3 linked regions of the Homo sapiens genome follow. The protein of the gene in region 2 interacts with the protein of the main gene of each other region in a pairwise test. Each region holds a gene or a part of one and is shown on either strand. Other genes may lie near its edges.

Region 1 (7,581 bases), on a different chromosome or scaffold from region 2:
TAAGGACACTAATCCTGTTGGATCAGGGTCCCACCCGTATGACTTCATTTAACCTTAATTACCTCCTGAAGGCTCTAACTCCAAATACTGTTACGTCCTGGGTTAGGGGGCTTCTGCATGATTTGGGGGAGGGGCACAGTTTAGTCCATGGCACCCTCATTTAGGGAAAGGAGCAGGGCTCATTGCCCAGGTCCCTAAATCTTTCTGCCTCTATCTTACCAAGGTTCTTGAAGGCCCATTTCCTCATACATGCATACAACAGCTTTTATTAGTATCTTACACTAAGAATACAACACATTTCTTCTAATAGCATCTCACTCCTTAGCTTAGGTGTCCATGCCAACTGGGGAAAAAATAGTCTAGGTTTATCAGTTTAGAACTTTCCTTTGGGCTCATCAAAAAGTCTTGTGCGATTTCTATGTTGTATTTGTAAAAGAAGGGGAAAAGGAGAGGGAAGGGAAAAAAATGTCTTTCTTAATTTTTCAGAATTTGCTCTTTTCGTTAAGATTCTTTGACAATTTCATTTCATGAGACTTGAATACAATATAGATTTTCAAGTACAGAGTCTATAAATCATGATCCTCATGTCAGTCATAAATTGGCTCAAAGGAGGAGTAGCATGCTGGGCCTCCATAATTCCCAGGAAATACCTAATATAATAGCATAAATCAAAATAACTTACAAAGCTGGTGATTTTGTGAGCTAAAATACTTTTCTCAGTAGCATAAGGGTAGAGGCCTCACTCTACTAGGATAAAATGCGTTTTCATTGTGGAATTCAGCAGACGTATGCTAAAGGAACAAGATTACCTTCTGTGGACTCTACATTTCCTCTTACTGGTGATGAGTTCTTTCAAAATAAAATGTAATGAAAATAACCACTAGTTTTGTTCATTTAATCTTTAGAAAACAATTTGAAGAAATGGCCTCTTATTTTAACTCGTCTTCTGTAAACGAATTTGCTAAACATATAACCAATGCCACATCAGAAGAACGACAGAAAATGCTAAGAGACTTTTATGCTTCTCAATATCCAGAGGTAAAAGAATTTTTTGTGGATTCTGTGTCACAATTCAACAATTCTTCCTTTGAGAAAGGAGAGCAGCGCACCCGGAAGAAATCTGATAAAAGAGAATCTCTTATAAAACCAAGGCTGTCAGATTCTGAAACCTTGTCATTTAAAGATTCTACCAACAAAATTTCTCAAGTTTGCAGCCTAAAAACATATAAAAGAAAATCAGTTAAGTTTCAGAATCATATTTCCTATAGAGAAGAGGTGTTTTTTAATGATGCAGAAACTAAGAAATCACCTGTTAGTTCTACTCAAGAGATTGACAGTGGGAAAAACAGCCAGGCATCCGAAGATACTGTGACATCCCGTTCTCTGAACAGTGAGTCTGAAACACGTGAGAGAAGGTTAGAAAATACCATGAAAGACCAACAGGACCTCACAAGAACGGGCATTTCAAGAAAAGAACCCCTTCTCAAATTGGAAAACAAAAAGATAGAAAATCCAGTGCTGGAAAATACTTCTGTGATAAGCTTACTTGGTGATACCTCTATTCTTGATGACCTTTTTAAAAGTCATGGGAACAGTCCCACACAACTGCCAAAGAAAGTTCTTTCAGGGCCCATGGAAAAAGCAAAACAGAGACCAAAAGATTTCTGGGACATCTTGAATGAGCAGAATGATGAGAGTCTTAGTAAACTCACAGACTTGGCAGTAATAGAGACTCTGTGTGAAAAAGCACCTCTAGCAGCACCCTTTAAAAGGAGAGAAGAGCCAGCAACTTCTCTTTGGAAATCAAATGAGAAATTTTTATGGAAGAAATTTAGCCCAAGTGATACAGATGAAAACGCAACCAATACACAGAGTACCACATAAGCATATAAATGAATTACTGCACCAGTAAACTGCTGCCATCACTGTTTACGGCACTGGATTCCACACTGATTCTATTATCTTGAACACAGTTGTTGACATATATTTTTATTAAATTATTGCTTTAGGATTTTTTGAAGTCTAAAGTATTGTCATGGATCTGTTTTTCTTGATATTTGATTTGATCTTTCAAGAATATGATTGTATTTATAGTATAAACCTCTGTTATGAATTAGAAAAGATTCTAGGTTTGTTAATAGGAGACCTGGGACATCTTTCTTACTATATTACATAATGATGTGACACTTGCCCCGGTGAGCATTGTTTCCCAGTATGAAAGATGAAGAGTCTGTACCGAATCAGCATGAGTGTCCTTCCAGTTTAAAAAAGCTTTGCTTCGCTCTCCTAATGGCTCATAGGCTGAATCATGTCTGCCCCTCAAATCAGGTGTATACCAATGTGTTTTTTACTAGCACTTGGGAAAGTTATTAAGTATTTTCTTTTTCCCTGGGCATCATGTTCTATTATTATTTTAGAAAAAAGTCATAATTGGTACTGAATATATGGTATATATAATATTAAAATGGTAATTTTGCAACAGCTCAAAATTAAAAGGTTAATGTTATACACTTTACTATATGAGCTGTGATTACTACCATTAGCCACAGATACCAGTGCCTCAACTTTTTATGTACCTATTGTGATTTAATGTAAATAAAGGTTTGTATAGTACTTTTGTAGTTCTTAAGTATGAAGAAATGGGTAAACTTTTTATTTTGTTAGAAACTGTTATATTTTGAGTGTAATATTTATGGTTTATAGCAAAATGAATGTGCTTATTGTTGAATGCATGTATTTAGAAGCCTTTACTCAGCCCCTGTGTTCTGTGCTAGGAGCTTGAGCTCTACAGGTAAGGCAGAGCTACCGGTGAATGAAAGGAAATCATGTCAGTGAAAAATCATGGTGGAAAGCCCCTGGCATCACATGTGCATGCTGTAGGCAGGACCTGAGCTGCCTCCGCTGCAGGTTCAGATGCACCGCTGCAGCTGTCCTTCAGTTAGTTCACAGGGCTGCAAGAGGAGGACACATCCCTCCAGAAAACAGCCTGAGCCGGGAACTGGCTGTGCTAAAGAGCACTGCTATCAAGTTGAGGAGAGAGGGCTTCCGTGTACTCAGGATGTAGAGTCATTGCTCAGAAGTGAACAAAAAATCAAAAACAAAAGTCTTCTCAAGGGACTGATCGGCCAAGTATGCTTTTCTTTAGAGCAATGTTTTGCCCTAGAGAATTGTAAAATTTATGTCATGACTCAGTACATATGTGTTCGTACATATATGATTGGAATAAAATGTTTATGAAATATTTACTCATAAGCCATGTAACATACTTTGACATTTTTCTCTTCTAGGATTGTGTTTGGTAGGGCAGTGGGTTTGTGTGTGTGTTAATCCTCTCACAACCCACTGAATTGAATTTCATGGCCCATGGTTAAGATCCACAGTGTGAAAACGCTGTTTTAAATTATATGAGTTCGTCATTTGTTTGCTCTGTGCAGCTGAGTTGTGTCCAGACTTACCAGATGGTATGTTTTGCCATTGAGGGGCCTTCTACACAATGAGTGCATGATATGGTCCTTGATAGACTTGACTTGTAGATGTTTTCAGCCTACAATGTGATCAGCTATCTGAGGAACTCCAGTAAGTAGATACCACTTCATTTCAGTTTATATACAAGACAATGTAGTTCAAACATTTTAATACCTTGTAAATTATGATATTCATATAAATATTAGCTCTATAGTCTTCATATATGTACAGTTTTTTTTTTTTTTTTTTTTTTTTTGAGATTGAGTCTCACTCTGTCACCCAGGCTGGAGTACAGTGGCATGATCTTGGCTCACTGCAACCTCCACCTCCCTCCCAAACAACTCTTATGCCTCAGCCTCCTGAGTAGCTAGGATTACAGGTGTGTACCACCACACTCAGCTAAACATTTTTTTTTTTTTTTGAGACGGAGTCTCACTCTGTCGCCAGGCTGGAGTGCAGTGGCTCGATCTTGGCTCACTGCAGCCTCCGCCCCCCGAGTCAAGCAATTCTCCTGCCTCAGCCTCCCGAGTAGCTGGGACTACAGGTGCGTGCCACCACGCCCAGCTAATTTTTTTGTGTTTTTAGTAGGGATGGGGTTTCACCATGTTGGCCAGGCTGGTCTCAATCTCCTGGCTGCAAGCGATCCACCTGCCTTGTCCTCCCAAAGTGCTGGGATTACAGGTGTGAGCCACCATGCCCAGCCAATAAATGCTATTAAAGAAACTTTTAGGCCGGGCACAGTGGCTCACGCCTGTAATCCCAGCACTTTGGGAGGCCGAGGCAGGCGGATCACAAGGTCATGAGATCGAGACTATCCTGGCTAACGCGGTGAAACCCCGTCTCTACTAAAAAAAAAAAAAATACAAAAATTAGCCAGGCGTGGTGGTGGGCGCCTGTAGTCCCAGCTACTCGGGAGGCTGAGGCAGGAGAATGGCGTGAACCTGGGAGGCAGAGCTTGCAGTGAGCCAGGATTGTGCCCCTGCACCCCAGCCTGGGTGACAGAGCAAGACTCCATCTCAAAAAAGGAAACTTTTATCAATAGTAGTCAAAATGGGAGCAAAAATGCAGAACTGGAGTTTAAAAATTAGTTTCCAACAGTTGTCAGTGAAATATTTATCACTATTATGTAGGAAAGTGTGTCAGGTGGAATGCAGAGTCCAGTATGAAAAGGAGCCTGTTTCAGAACGGAAACTGTCAGGTGGAGTGGACTCCCTGCAATGGAGTGATGGAAAGATTTGGTACAACCATTGATGACCTGAGAACAGACACTAGGAAGGTTTGACAAGATCCTTCCTACCCCCACTCCACTGGTGATGTGTCACCAAGTTCTGCTAACTAAATGGGTGGCCTCAAGCAAATCCCTTACCTCCTTTTAGCCTTAGTTTCCCCTTTAAATTGGTGATGGATTAGATCAGTGGTGGTCAGCCATTTTCTTAAAGCAACTGAACTGTATCTTAATCAGAAACTTAACTAGTAAAACAATTAAAATGCAAGTCTGTTGCTTCAAGCAACACCACTGTGGCTCCATGGAGCACTAATTTGAAAACCACAGAGATGAGATCATTTCTAAGAAAACCTTTCAACTTTGTTTCCATGATGCTACTTGCCACAATCTTTTTTACTTAAGCAATGATACCGTTTCTGGCTGAACACTCACCACACAGCTATTAATATTGGAAACTGAGGCAAGATACCAAGAGATTTTTGCACTTGAATTCCTCAGGGTTCTCTTACAGCCCTGAAAACACCTCTTCAAGGAAATAAATAACATCTGCAAATGGTGCAGCTGCCCCTAAGTATTCAAGGCAAAGAAGCCTTAGTTTGCAGAGATGATGATAAACTTTTCATCCTTCCACAGAAAATGAGAAAGCCACAGGAAATACACGGTTATTTTCTAATTAAAGTTCAATGTGTACGCTTTTAAATTCTGAAGTTATCCTTCTTTTATGATATCAAAATAGCCCTCTTTTTTGAAATGATGGTAGATCATACCTTTTGGTCTTTTTCATTGTCCTTACATAAAAGTTGGTAATCATATGTCAGTCCCAGAAGTTTTATTTGACACTTACTGGTCTATAAAATCCAAAGGAATGGGGATCACTGCCTGCCTTAAAGGTTTTTTTGTGTGTTTGTTTGTTTGTTTGTTTGCATGTGAAGGATTTTTATGTCACAAATCCAGCTAACAGTGGATCTAGGATCTAGGCCTCACCGAGGATGTCACTGAACCTGTCAGCCCCAATGACAGGCACACACCTTCAAAGAGCAAGAGTGCCCATCACTTTCTAGGCTCCTTGCCTGCTGCTCATTCCATCATCACGGATACAGACTTGTTTCTGGTTTCATCTTCCACCAGAGATTGCAAAGCATCCTCTGCCCAGTGCTTCTAGGAGGCCTTACTGGGATGGTTCATAAGCCACTTTCCTCTTGGTGACAGCCCCTGTACACTGTGGCATGTACGGCTGGCTCCACTTGGTATTTGTTGCAGGAGGGAAGAACATCTCACTTTTGCTTGGCTAAAGGGCCACCCCAGGAGAGCTATTTTGCCTCAGGGTCTTGCAGGGTTTCTCTAGGAAAACAGTGCATCTGATAGTTACTCTCTGCCCCTAGGAGGAAAGACAGATTCGCCCTTCCTTCCCAAGTCCCAGGCTGTGTGGTTCCCAGCCCCAAGGGTAGCAAGTCAGAACCTCCGGAGAGGCTTTTAAGCATGCACATGTCCAGGGTCCTCATCAAGAGACTGAATCAGGGGGTCTAGGGCTCAGCACAGGCACCCTTTTTGTTTTTGCAGTTTCACAGGAATTCTGATGTGCCAGTGATTGTCAGGTTTGTCCCTGGGCAGGACCCACCTGCCTGACCTTCTGTCCCCCTGGGACACAGTATTTCCAGAGAGGTGCTTCAGTTGCCCCACCACGACTTCCAGCGCCCCCCATCTCTGTATGCAGCTGAGCTCATGATGGAGCCCACTGTGTGCTTTTTGTTGTTGTTACATTCCTATAAAAATGTCCACGCATATTTGAACATCTGTGTTCATAGTGGCATTATTCACAATGGCTACAACACGAAGAAAGCATTCCAAGTACCTATCGATGAATAAGCAAAATATTACACACACAGGAATATTATTCAGCCTTGAAAGGAAATTCGGACACGTGCTACAACATAGATGAATCTTGAGGACGGTATGCAAAGTGAAATAAATCAGACACAGAAGGACAAATACTGTATGATTCCACTTATATAAAGTACCTAGATTAGTCAGATTCATAGAGACAAAGTAGAATGGTGGTTGCTAGACGCTGGAGGGAGGGGAGAAAGGGGAGTTATTAATGGGTGTAGAGTTTCTGTTACACAGGATGCAAAGTGGCCTGAAGATGGATGGTCGTGATGGTTGCACAGCAATGTGAATTTAATGACACTGAAGTGTACACTTAAAAGTCATTAAAATGCTAAATTTTGTATGTGTTTTACAATTTTAAAAATGGAAAAAAAGTAAGACCAAAAGCAACACCTCTCCAGAATGTGTGTTATATACCAAATTTTGATGTATGTGAGATTGCTGACTATATTTTACTTATCAATTTGAAATTATATTGTTTTTATGTTGACACTCCATATAAGCCATTATTTTGAAAAAAACATTTTCCTTATTAAAAGATTGGAAAAAAATTCACACATAGCATTGTTTTTCTTTTTTTGTAAGACAGAGTCTCACTCTGTCACCTAGGTTGGAGTGCAATGGCGCAATCATAGCTCACTGCAGCCTCGACCTCCCAGGATCAAGGGATCTTCCCACCTCAGCCTCCCAAGTAGCTGGGACCACAGATGTGCACCACCCTGCCCGGCTAATTTTTGCATTTTTTTTTTTTTTTTTAGAGACAGGGTTTCGCCATGTTGCCCAGGTCTGGTCTCGAACTTCTGGACTCAAGCAATCTGCCTGCCTTTGCCTGCATTGTTTTTCTATTATATTTCATGTATTTTATTTGCTTTGCTGCAGGTTAAACTATGATGTTTATATTTATTGCCTAAGTTTCCATTAAGACCAATCTTAATTATACCAACATGATACCTTTCTGCCATGGACAGAGATAATACTCATCTGACATTCTTGGTTTTTTGCTG
Region 2 (7,581 bases):
AGTCTCAGTCTGTTGCCCAGGCTGGAGTGCAGTGGTGCGATCTCGGCTCACTGCAAGCTCTGCCTCCCGGGTTCATGCCATTCTCCTGCTTCAGCCTCCTGAGTATTTGGGACTACAGGCACCGCCACCATGCCAGGCCAATTTTTTAATATTTTTAGTGGAGACGGGGTTTCAGCGTGTTAGCCAGGATGGTCTCGATCTCTTGACCTCATGATCCGCCTGTTTTAGGCCTGTTTTAGGCTGGGCACGGTGGCTCATGCCTGTAATCCCAGCACTTTGGGAGGCCCAGGCAGACCTTTTATTAACTGCTCCAAAGCACAGTGTCAAGTGTTATTGCTATTCTGATCAGCAACTAATAAAAAGCCCACCCAACTGCATACATTATGGTTGTTTGCAGCTTCTTACTCACAATCTTTTTCCTAATTACTGGCAAGAAGGTAATAAAAATATTTGCCCCACACATTCCTCTTAAACATTTCATAAGATTCTGTTTTCTGTAGGGCGCAGTGGCTCATGGCTGTAATCCCAGTACTTTGGGAGACCGAGGCAGGTGGATCACCTGAGGTCAGGAGTTCGAGACCAGCCTGACCAACATGGTGAAACCCCGTCTCTACTAAAAATACAAAATTAGGCCAGGCGCAGTGGCTCACGCCTGTAATCCCAGCACTTTGGGAGGCCAGGGCAGGTGGATCATGAGGTCAGGAGTTCGAAACCAGCCTGGCCAACATGGTGAAGCCCCATCTCTCCTAAAAATACAAAAATCAGCCAGGCATGGTGGTGGGCGCCTATAATCCCAGCTACTCAGAAGGCTGAGGCAGGAGAATCACTTGAAACCGGAAGGTGGAAGTTGCAGTAAACTGAGATCGCACCACTGCATTCCAGCCTGGATGAAAGAGCGAAACTCTGTCTCAAAACAAAACAAAACAAAAATTAGCTGGGCGTGGTGGCACCCACCTGTAATTTCAGCTACTTGGGAGGCTGAGGCAGGAGAATTGCTGAAACCTAGCAGGCGGAGGATGCAGTTAGCTGAGATTGCCCCATTGCACTCCAGCCTGGGCAACAAGAGCAAAACTCCATCTGGAAAAAAAAAAAATTCTAGTTTCTGTCATCTCTGGGTATCTTATTCACATGATAATATCAAGGAATCAACCCTTTAGCCCAGTGTATTCACTTGTAAGCCCAATTAAAAGCATTATTTCCAAGGAGTTTACCTATCTGCTCTTAGGAATGAAAGTAAAGAATTTAAGATTGAATCACTGATTAAAATTGTAGCAGCAGGTAGTTTAGAGTGTGTCTTCTAATAGTTTAAGGCCCTGTATTCTTGAAACATGCTACTTAGGAGTAGGACAAAAATATTCCAACTAACTACTACGTGAGATCCAGAAATCTGATAAATTACAAATGTCATTTTACAAGTATCTGTTTAGTCATTGAAGTAGAATATAGCTGGATAAGATCTTAGCAAGCTCATTTATTCTACAAACGAGAAAACTGAAACCCAAAGAGGTTAAATGATTTGCCCTGAGTCACATTGCTAGTTGGTGACAGAGCTAGAATACTTTTAGTTCTTTTTTTTTGTTTTTTTCTTTCCTAGGAAAGTGAATAAACTTAATTGAGAATGTCTGAAAACCTTGACAAGTCCAATGTAAATGAAGCAGGAAAATCAAAATCCAATGATTCTGAGGAAGGCCTCGAAGATGCTGTGGAAGGTGCTGATGAAGCCTTACAAAAAGCAATAAAGTCAGACTCCTCCAGCCCCCAAAGAGTGCAGAGACCTCACTGTAAGCAAATTTGACTTTGGTTAGATGCAATATTGTCATTGTTTTCAGGTGACGGTTTTATGAGGCCTCCTTGTGCATGTGGCCGTGAGCTAGGTTCTAATAATATAACATTGCCAATGTAGCATTTAGGAATAATAGCAGTTCCTCAGCTGGCAGCCTAGCTACTTGTGGATTTTCAATTGCATGGGAAATTAACAATTTAGAATAATGTCCAGAACGTTCCTGTCTTTCTCCAGCCTCAGTGACACTCCAGTCTCTGAAGTGCTCTGAGAAATAGGAGGGTGGAGTATAAATTGCAGCTTGTATTGAAAGAGTGTTTGAAAAGTCTGAGGCTAATTCCAGCCAGGACTGTGCTTGTGCAGGTTAAAAAAAAATGTGAGTAAGTTCACCACACCCTAATTCTCTGCCTGGGGGCTTAGTTCCCACAAGCTTGAGGGGATTCAGTTTGCTAAATGTGTGTGGTGAAGTCATTTCAGATCCCTGGCAAGGAGCAAGCCTCTTAAATGAAAGGGTGGCAATATCTTCAGGCATTCCCAGTGGTTGCCTCAACTCACGTCTTTTATGAAGAGTACCTTAAGCATTTTGAAGTGAGTCCAAAAATGCAAGTTTTTAAGAGGGAATGTCATAGTCTAAGAATGTCGGTATTGATGTTATCCCTTTAAATTGTAGATGATCAGTAGTTGTACGTATTTGGAAAAAGTACAGACATTTTTGGGTTTTGGGGTGTGTTTCTTCTAAAATGATCAAAGCCCTTCCCGGGCAATTTATTAGTCAACATACTATTCTTCTAGCAAACATTAATGGACCCTATTTTATTCTGATTTATTATCACATAGATTTTAATAAATCAACTATTAGGTCAAATTGTGTCCAAGGAAACATGTTGTTGCTAGCACAGTCTATCATGCATTTGTCAGGCCTGACTCCAATATGTGTAGTTAGAAAGCTTCTGTTTTCCTGTCTTTAAAATGAGGAAAATACAATATTTCTTGGGGTAGCAGTAAAGATTAAATGAATTCCTATAAGGCACTTAGAACAGTGCTTCACAGGTAATAAATGCTTAATAAACATTAGTTGTTGTTACTACTATTGCTACTAACATTATGTCATCTATTGCATTTAAAGATGCCAGGATTGGCCAGGCATGGTGGCTCATACCTGTAATACCAGCACTTTGGGCGGCTGAGGCAGGAAGATCACTTGAGTCCAGGAGTTCAAGACCAGCCTAGGCAACATAATGAGACCCCATCTCTACAAAAAATAAAAATTAGCCAGGCATGGTGGTGCATGCCTATAGTCCCAGCTACTTGTGGGGCTAAGGCAGGAGGATCACTTGAGCCTGGGAGGTGGAGGCTGCAGTGAGCCGAGATCACGCCACTGCACTCCCGTCTGGGTGACAAAGTAAGACCCTGTCTCAAAAAAAAAAAAAAAAAATTAGCTGAGCATGCACGTGGTTGTAGTCCCAGCTACTTGGGAGGCGGGGACAGGAGGATCACTTGAGCTGGGGAAGTCAAGGCTGCAGTGAGCCGTGATTGTGTCACCGCACTCCAGCCTGGATGACAGAGTGAGACAAGCCTCTCTCAAAAAAATAAAAATAAAAAAAATAAAGAGGCCAGGATTGATTGCTGTAATGTAGATGTATATGGCTAACATGATAGCTTTACAACCTATAGTTTCTGCTAAAGAAGAACTTTTGGTTTAGGTCTTCAGTCACCCTTTATTGGTTGGTTGGTTGTTGGGATGGCCAGACCCAACGTGGAGGTGACGAAGTCCAGTGGAGTCAAAAGAATGAAAAAGACAAGTTTAAGAGTGCATAAAGTGGGTCCGGGGGCCAATGCTAGTATGGAGGCTGCGAAGGCCCCGAGCTCTGGAAGCCTGCACTATTCATTGGTGATGAAACAAAGAAGCAGGTGGTGAGGATGTGGGGGTTGAAAGAAAGCAGTGTATCAAGCACATGATCTACAGCTGTGACGGTTTAGCATTTTCTTTGCAGCATATGGAACATGTTCTGCTACTTGAGATAATGGGAAACATGTTCTAGTTTAAGATACAATAGATCTATGAGCCTAGGAGTGCTAGAAGCAAGGAGCCAGCAAGTCTAGACACATTCCAGAGGCCACGCCCTGAGCCCTGGATTCCATTCAAGCCACGAAGGGTTTTATGCCCTGGGCTTAGATTATGGTGCTGCAGGGCAGCCTTCTGCCCTTTAGCACAGAGCTTGGTGTTCCCAAGGCCATGAGGGGTTTTAGACCCTGGACCCTGGACATGTTCCAAGACTCTTTTACATTAAGTGAGACATGCAAGCCCTGCTTTAGCTTCTCCCAACAGTTGGTTGATTGGTTTTAATTTTTTTAAACAATTTTAACTTTTATAGGTTCAGCCATTCTTTGGTTGATGGCTTCGCCTTTGGCATCTTGTCAGCCTGATGGCATGATTCCAAATTAATGTCAAACCAGTACTAAGCTACATTATCTGAAATTGTGTGTAGTTATGCCCTTAAGGCAAGAATACTTATCCTGGGACCTATGATCAAGATTTAGGGGATCTAGTAATAACCAAAAAAGTATATCAACATTTGTTTGTATATGCATGTTTTTAGGAATAAGGTCGTGGAAGCTTTCATTAAGTTCTCTTAGTAGTCTGTACCAAAATAAGGTTTAAAATCAATGCCCTAAGGTATTCCTTTTGGCTGCCTTCCTATTTCTCCTGTAGTGCTAGGTAGGTACAGGGCTATAAACCCAAAAGATAAAGCTAAGACCTCATTATCTGGGCATCAGGTAAGGAAGCATTATTGAACACATAGAGCATAAATAAGGATTTACAAAATATGGAATTAACAGTTTACAGACATTTCCCCCAAACTCTGTAAATTTGTAGCTACTGAGTTTAAAGTAACTCTAAAATCATATTTGGAATTCTACAAATTAAAACGTAAGTAGCAAAAAGAGAACATTTATTGTTTTAAATTATAACACAGAGTAATACTTTAAGAGTGGAGTTGCTAGGCCAGGCGCATTGGCTCATGCCTATAAGCACTTTGGGAGGCTGAGGCAGGTGAATCACCTGAGGTGAGGTCAGGAGTTCGAGACCAACCTGGCCAACATGGTGAAACACTGTTTCTACTAAAAATACAAAAATTAGCCGGGAGTGGTGGTGTGTGCCTGTAATTGGGAGGCTGAGGCAAGAGAATCACTTGAACCTGGGAAGCAGAGGTTGCAGTGAACCGAGATTGTGCCATTGCACTCCAGCCTAGGGGACAAGAGCGAAACTTCATCTCAAGAAAAAAAAAAAAAGAGTAGAATTCTGATGTAACCGATGCAGAATATTGAAAAAGGAAAAATGGCTGGCTTGTAAAAAATTTATTGGTACTGATTTGAGGTGGTGATTTGATTGTAAAAGATTATCTGTTCTTTAAACAGAGTAAGGATCAGTCAACTGTAACTTAACAATGTTTTCTCTAAAATCTTCTACTACTTATACTTTAATGCTCTTCTCACAAAATACCCTCTGTTCTAACGTTTAATCACCTAGTTGACCAGTAAAAGATGCTATATTCAGATGACAAACATCAATTGTTATTCCAGTTAATATCTCCCACTTAGGACCTTTGTTTATTGGATCAGGTCCTTGTGAATTTAATTAGTAGATCCCAGTCATCTTTAGATGAATAGATGACACGAGAACTTACATTTCTAAAGCTCATGACTAGACTTTGAATTATGGTGTCTCTGTATTCAGTCAGTCAAATATTTATTGAGTGCATACTGTATGTCAGGGATCCAGCAGTGAACCAGGCACATATTGTCTCTGTCCTCATGGAGCTTGCAGGCTAGCGACCAGGAAGACAAATTAACAAGCAGTTTCCAACAACATAATAAGTACTATGGGTAATCTGTACCCTGGTTTTACTGTGCTCATTCTATAGTAGCTGTTTGGGTGACAGTTGCAATCTTGCCCTCCATAAATGTCCGTCCACTTATGTAACTAACAGCATCTTTTCAGAGTGTATAGGCATCTCAGGACACCTTAGTAAAGATAGAGAGTACAACCATTCTAAATTAGAACTTCATTTTATTTTGGAATCTGTCTGCCAGCCTCTCTAAAGTCATGTTTAACCTAATATGGTTTTCAGTTTCTCTAACAGGGCATCAGTGCGCAAATGCTGTAACAAAATAACAAAATTTAGCAACAACTTTAGCTTTGTATCACGTAAGATAAACTCCAGGGTAAGTTACATGTATCTTTACATTTTTTTTTTTTAAGACCGGATCACTCTATGTTGCCCAGGCTGGCCTTGAACTCCTGGGCTCAAGTGATTCACCCACCTCAACCTCCCTAGTAGCTGAGACTACAAGTGTGCACCACCATGTCTGAGTTGACCTTACCATTTTTCATGGCTCTTATTACAACCCAGGTTCTCTTAACAAATTGAGGTGAAGACGTGTTGTCCACCAAATTGCATCTTTATGCAATTTTATGCAATCCTTACCAAGTTTTCATTTATGAAATTGGTAAATTTGAGAACTCTCACAAAACAAAATCCCCACAACCCTATAATTTGTATGCAGTGAATAATTCCTCTGTATGTACATCGGTAACATGTCCTGATCATATCTTAGAACTGTAGCTTTTATCTATCATGATCAGATACCTGTCATTGATAAGTTTGATTTTAAGTAGTCTCTTAACTTGGACAGTTCCTGAAAATTTTCTTCTTCCTAATGGTGAGGTTCTTAGTACTTGGTGCAAGCTGTTTTTTTCCAAGTATGCCCAAAACACTGAGAATGCACTTGTTTAAAATTCGGAGGATTCTTATATTTCATAGCACACCCTTAAGTCTCTTCTTTTTGCATATGGAGAAACACTGACCCTGCAAGATTTAAGTGACTTGTTCAAGGCCGTACTCAACAGAGTCCAGAGGAAGTGAAATTCCTTCCTGATTTGCTCCAGCCACTGTGTTTCATGACTAGGCAGCATAGTAACGGTGCCTATTATTACCCAGATGACTAAAATTATTGGGAAATAACAAATCCGGCCAGGCGCGGTGGCTCATGCCTATAATCCCAGCACTTTGGGAGGCCAAGGCAGGTGGATCATGAGGTCAAGAGATCAAGACCATCCTGGCCAACATGGTGAAACCCTGTCTCTACTAAAAATACATAAATTAGCTGGGTGTGGTGGCACACGCCTGTAGTCCCAGCTACTTGGGAGGCTGAGGCAGGAGAATCACTTGAACCCGGGAGGCGGAGGTTGCAGTGAGCCGAGATCGCGCCACTGCACTCCAGCCTCGTGACAGAGCAAGACTCCGTCTCAAAAAAAAAAAAAAAAAAATTCACCCAGAGGACTTGATGTGATGTATTTCTGTTGTTTTCATAAATTTCAGATGGTAAGACATTGATTATTTTTGAAGGGGTGGCCTGCCCCTCCACAACCTGTGGGTGTTTCTCGTCATGTGGGACGAGAGACTGAGAAAAGAAATAAGACACAGAGACAAAGTATAGAGAAAGAAAAGTGGGCCCAGGGGACCTGCACCCTGTCTCTGAGTTCCCTCAGTATTTATTGATCATTATCTCTACCATCTTGGAGAGGGGGTTGTGGCAGGACAATAGTGTAATAGTGGGGAGAGGGTCAGCAGGAAACCTGTGAACAAAGGTCTCTGTGTCATAAATAAGTTTAAGGAAAGGTACTGTGCCTTGATGTGCACGGATACAAACTTCTGGGTGCATTAAAGAGCAGTATTGCCGCTAGCACCTCACCTCCAGCCCTAAGGCAGTTTTCTCCTATCTTAGTAAATAGAACA
Region 3 (5,872 bases), on a different chromosome or scaffold from region 2:
GCAGAGTCTAGGTCAATGAAAGAGTTCCAGCAAGCCTATGAGCCACTGGGAATTCAGTCATTATTTATCTAAATTTCTGATTTGGAATGAGGTTGGTAAATTAGTCACCAGCCAGTTTCATCTTCTATAAACTTTCCATTCACATTATTGATCCATATTTCTATTGGGCTGTTTGTTTTTTCTATTGGTTTATAAGAGTTTGTTGTATATTCTACACCACCATACCTGGCTAATGTTTATATATTTTTGTAGAGACAAGGTCTCACAATGTTACCCAGGCTGGTCTCAAACTGCTGGGCTCAAGCAATGCTCCCGCCTCAGCCTCCCAAATTGCCAGGATTACAGGCATAAGCCATCGTGCCCAGCAAGAATCCTGTATTTTTGATGGTCTTGTCAAATCTGTGAGGGTGTTGGGAGGACAATGATGTGATATATATATATTTAAAGGTATATGTTTTTATTTTTAAAGGTGTATATATACACCTTTAAAAACCTCAGTGGACATTGTAAATAAAGTGGAAACTAGAATTCTGTGAACATTTAGAATGTTGAAGGCCAGGCACGTGAGCCAAGAAATTGTTTGCCTGCAGATTTTTCTTTCTTTCATTGTCTGCCAGGAGGGTTACATAAGCCTGTCTTCAGTACCACCCAAATCCCCTAGTAAAAGGAACACAGACAAATAATGAAAAGTCAAAAGCTCCAAGTGGAAGTTCAATTGTCTTTATTTTTCTTATACAGATTCAGAGAAGTAAAAACCAGTACCAAACTCCAGGTAAAATGGTTTGATCTGATCGATTTGGCTGCATACTTTCGGTACGTATAACATTCTAAACTTAAAATAGAAATTTTTATATTACAAAACGTAGAAGTAAAATTTTAAAAAGTTAAAGTACTAGCACATATATGTGTTAGGAAAATGGTCTCTGTCAATTGCCCATTTTCCCAATTAAATTAACCTACGATTTCCTTTTTTTAACAGCTTATTTTTTTCATAAAAGTTGTACTTTGAGAAGTTACTTTCTAATTACGTCATGAGAACACAACTTGTAATTAGCAACACTTCTGTCAGTCTAGATCACTTCTTCTGCAGAGAGCTTTTCAACCAAGTTGGCATCAACCAGCACAATAAAGTTTTCACTGTTTTACCTGTTTCCTGTATATGGTGTAATCAGTGAAAGAAATGGCATTTCACATCCTAAATAATACGGTGAAACACTGTCTAAAAATTACTTAGATTTAACAGAATTGCAATTAGGTTTTGACAATGTATTTACTTCAAGACAATGTATTTTATCAGGAAAAAATATCTTGAAAGAAAGATCTCTGAAATTATTTTTCATTTGATACGCCTTTTCTGTGACAAAATTTTGGGGTGAAATGATGATGTTTACTGATTGATTTAGTACTAAAAAGACTAGTACTAAGAAGACTAAAGACAGTTATCTTATAATAAGAAATATAGTATAAATAGCACCTTATCAAGAATTCTGCAGGGGTTTTAACACTTACAATAATAGGAAATAGCCATTAAAAAGTTGCTCTAACTTTAGATTTCTAACTTTAGTGTTCTTTAACAAAGGCCATATTTTGTGGCCTTAAAAACAAAAAATTATATCTGGCTTTATCTATTAGTAAACACAAAGGGTCCATATTTTATTCTGAAAAAATATTTATTATATTCATTCATAAATGTTCTAACTAATTTAACTAAAAAAATCTTCTAGTATTTTCTGATGCCACAAGCTTACTAGAAAATTACTTCTAAAAATTGGTAATATAAATCATCAATGATTTACCTACTTTAAAAAAGAGGGGTATCTGTTTCTCTTACATTTAATAACCTGAAAATGAGTCTATAAAAATATTTTTTAAAAATACAGTAACACTGCTGAGTTTTGTTAGGTCCCTTGTTTTTTTAATTTTTTATTTATTTATTTATTTTTAGCAAGAATGTACAATTCTTTTTGCAATTTTTTGCTAACAAAAGACAAAAAGAAATAGTGCTCCCTTCAATTTAGTAGCAATAAAATCATCTATCTTCATCTCTCTCAGAGGGCTTAGGGAGAGTGAAAGGAATTAGAGGAACATAAACCATGGGTCCTTCAGGTAAAATAAGTCATTTCATAGTGATGGAGGCAACAGCAGGCTACGCTCTTGTCTGCCTGTACGCTCAGCATCAGCATGCCCTGCCCCTCCTCCTCCCACATAAGGTGCACCAAAGCCTTCTTTTCTTCTACAACAGAGTCTTCCGGTATAAAGGTGGCAACAGAAAATTGTTGCTTTGTCCTTTTGGGGCATCTCTTGCATCTCCTGCTTGTTTTGCTTTTGGGGTACTATAACTTGTCTCTTTCCATTTCACAACTAGTATCCTTTCCACGATATTCCATAACTTTGCTACTTCATCTCTGACCTTTTCACTTGCCTTCTTTCCAACATGATCCAATGTACTCTGTACATGTATATTCCGGTAGATCAAAAGGAATCTTATTTAAGATCCCCAACAAATAAGTCCCCCATGGAAATTGAAAGTATCCTCTCAGAGACTCAAATTATTAAAGTCTTTCAAAAAAGATTAAATTCATAGATTATAAATAATATTAGTTCAAAATATTAAACAGTTGAGGACTTCATTGGCAATGCAGGCAGACTGCATGCCAGTTGAACATGATGCTCTCTCAGTCCTTAAAAGCTAATTAAAAATGGTTTTGGTTACATAAGAGGTATTGAATACATATTTCATGCCTTTTTATACCAACTGTAGCAAACAGGATTAGGATAATATACTTAGGAATCAATTTTACTGAATTCAGAAACATTTATCTCCACCATACACCCTCAAAGGGCATTTTTTTTTACATGTCAGTCAGAGATCTGCTTCATCCTTCAGTTTCATAGATAGAATTATTTTAAACACTTGAAATCTAGGAAGCAAACCTGACAAGGCTTCAGAATTTAAAAAGCAACAGCTCACTGTGTGTGGTGTGCTATCAGGTTGAAATCTATGTTGTCCTGATGTTTTCAGAGTTATTTCAAAAGACAAAAATACAGTTGCCACTGATTTATCAAAAACATTTGGCTGCCTTTTGTCATCAGCTACAAAATTACAGTGCTTTATAAAATAAACATCAAGGCCGGGTGCGGTGGCTCACGCCAGTAATCCCAGCACTTTGGGAGGCCGAGATGGGTGGATCACCTGAGATCAGGAGTTTGAGAACAGCCTGACCATTATGGTGAAACCCCGTCTCTACTCAAAATACAAAAAATTAGCCGGACGTGGTGGCAGGTGCCTGTAATCCCAGCTACTCGGGAGGCTAAGGCAGGAGAATCGCTTGAACCCAGAAGGCAGAGGTTGCAGTGAGCCGAGATTGTGCCATTGCATTCCAGCCTGGACAACAAGAGCAAAACTCGATCTCAAAAACAAACAAACAACATCAAGAAAAAAAAAAACCATCAGATTCTAAGCTGCAATTTTTTAAATCCCCAGTTGTAATATTTCAAAAACTTTTGTTTGAATAAAATGCTCATAATTAGTACCAAACTGGTCTCTTTCACAAGATCTGTAGTGTAAGACCTGTGACTAATGCTGCTGCTGCTACTTTCCCGCTGGAGGGACTAAGTTGTCTAGATGCTCTGCAGTAAAATAACGAAAGATAAGCTACAATAGGACTGTGTGCCTTTATAAATACAGACTAATAAGAGCCATCAGAGCCAGCATGGATTCAAAATTACATTGTATTCCATACAGTAGAATTTTACTATCCATACAATGATTTTTAAAGCTCAAGTTAAATAGTTTTTAAAGCATTTGGTACTACTGTCATCAATACAGTTTTTGAAACTGTAAATCAGGTCGAATTTTGTGCACATTTCCTGGACCAAGATGCCCTCAGAAGTAACTGCCTGTGGTCAGCTTTTTATGGTTTAAAATCAATTGGTGTATAAATTTCAATTAACACCCATAAAGCTTAGCCATGGGGCAGCAGAGAAGAAAGAGAAAAGTATTCTGCATAATCAATCCTGCAGACACAATTCTGTATAATCTGTCACAAGAACGCAGGCTTGCAGAAAATGAAAATAGAATATTTATTTATGTTTAACTTAAGTTACTCTCAATCAAAACCAGGCAATGATTAAACTGGCAACATAAAAAGGAGGGAGCACGAGTCATGGAGGCGGGAAGTGGTGCACCTGCAGACTTGCTCTGCTCCATCACTTTTTCCAAGAGGCCCAGGAAATGTAAGGTCATGGCTACATCCAAGTTACAATGGTAGTGATTACAGCCAGGTTAGAAAGGGCTCACTTTTGTTCAGAGCAGACTCTACATCATTGAAGAGGGGGATCAGGTCTTCAGATTCCAAAGTTCCTAAGTCAACGTTTGTTCCTGGAAGACAGTCAAGGAAATCAGGGAAACGGGTCTGTTGGGGATTGATGTTCATGGGTGTTTGTCCTGCGTTTTCTCCTATAACAAAATGAAAAGAAACCATTTTAATTCCTTCTTTTAGGCTCTTGAAGGAGGAACAGTTCAAGTATTTACATAACCCTCACCTTCATGTCTTCAACTACCACATTATTGACCCTTACTCATAAGAGGTACAGAGATGTGGAAGAAATCGAAAATTATTTCTGGATAGGTGTGGTCCAGAATGGAAAAGGCCAAGGAGATAAGAAAGGAGCATGTGAAAGGCACTGTGGATCTGATCTATGATCTGTGCCTTCCCATGACAAAGGTGTGAAGAACTGTTTTACAAAAGAGTAGAGAGGCCTTGTCTGTAATAAACAGCTTATTACAGAACTATAATCTACAGGTTTCATTGTAAGCTTAGGTTTACCCATACCATCCTTCTTTATGTTCAAAGAGAATGGTGTGAAGCTTCTTTTAACCAGGCTATTAAAAAGTTGTCTTCATTGATGACTTTAGGCATCATTTATAAAGGCAGTTCTGCAGACGTTTTCCCTCTTTCTGTAATACCTACACCCTACAACTATCTGCCTTTCTCACAAGCATATGAGCACAGTGCATATGAGCATGTTAAGGCTTTAAGTCTTAGAGTAAAGAAATCTTTTGTTTTCTTTAAGACACTATTTCCTAAACCCATTTAATCACCTAAACCTATTTTGGCAGTATGTGTATTCAAATAAAACTGAAGTTCTACAGAACACAGGTGAGAAAATGCTGTACTAGAGGAAAAGTAGGTGTCTGGGATATGACATGAAGAATATAGGTTCTTTATGTGTCATAGTATGGGACAGAATGCACTACTGACTTTGGTGTCATTAGATCGAGCTTTGTGGCTGTGTAAGCTTAGACACACTTAACCTGCCTGATTCTCAGTTTACCCATCTAGAAATTGGGATCATATGCTCCTTTTACAAAAGTTAGAGTAAAGTGCCATATAGTGTCTGCCACATATCCATGGCTCTGGGTGTCATTGATATATACAAAGTTATATACATACAAAAATATAATAAATGTTCATTGTCCTGAGAGAAAGAAAAACCCAGGTCTTCAGCCACTATTAATTACACAATATCAAAACAACAGGTTAATTCAAAAAGTCCCAAACAATTTTCTGAAGAGATAATATCTACTTCAAAAATTGAGAAGCATTGATAACTAAGGCCAGCTTCCACCATAACGTCATTTTTTAAAAACTTGTTAAATTATCTTTTGTGTGTTACAAGTGCAGTAGCCTTCCTGAAACGTGTGTAGGGAAGTTTCACTATTTTAAGCAAAATTGCCGAAAGTTCACTTTAGCAATCTGTGTTTTCCAGGGAGAAAAATTATATCCTTCCAAATGATGAAGGAACCATCATCCAATTTGGATTTTGGTGATAGCAAAACACAATGGCTTTTCTAGAAGTCACAAAATAT

Evidence for each region.
Region 1: the proteins of TCP11L1 (region 2) and ERCC6L2 interact in binary tests that used the Homo sapiens proteins (3 or more experiments, as listed by UniProt).
Region 3: the proteins of TCP11L1 (region 2) and WWTR1 interact in binary tests that used the Homo sapiens proteins (3 or more experiments, as listed by UniProt).

The regions. Positions count from the first base shown.
Region 1 is NC_000009.12:96,011,320-96,018,900, forward strand, and holds the end of ERCC6L2 (DNA excision repair protein ERCC-6-like 2), read left to right. Parts: intron 1-905; coding exon 906-1,884; 3' UTR 1,885-7,128; downstream 7,129-7,581. UniProt on the Homo sapiens protein: Promotes double-strand break (DSB) end-joining and facilitates programmed recombination by controlling how DNA ends are joined in a spatially oriented manner during repair.
Region 2 is NC_000011.10:33,042,156-33,049,736, forward strand, and holds part of TCP11L1 (T-complex protein 11-like protein 1), read left to right. Parts: intron 1-1,594; 5' UTR 1,595-1,618; coding exon 1,619-1,781; intron 1,782-7,581.
Region 3 is NC_000003.12:149,516,531-149,522,402, forward strand, and holds the end of WWTR1 (WW domain-containing transcription regulator protein 1), read right to left. Parts: intron 4,460-5,872; coding exon 4,275-4,459; 3' UTR 705-4,274; downstream 1-704. UniProt on the Homo sapiens protein: Transcriptional coactivator which acts as a downstream regulatory target in the Hippo signaling pathway that plays a pivotal role in organ size control and tumor suppression by restricting proliferation and promoting apoptosis.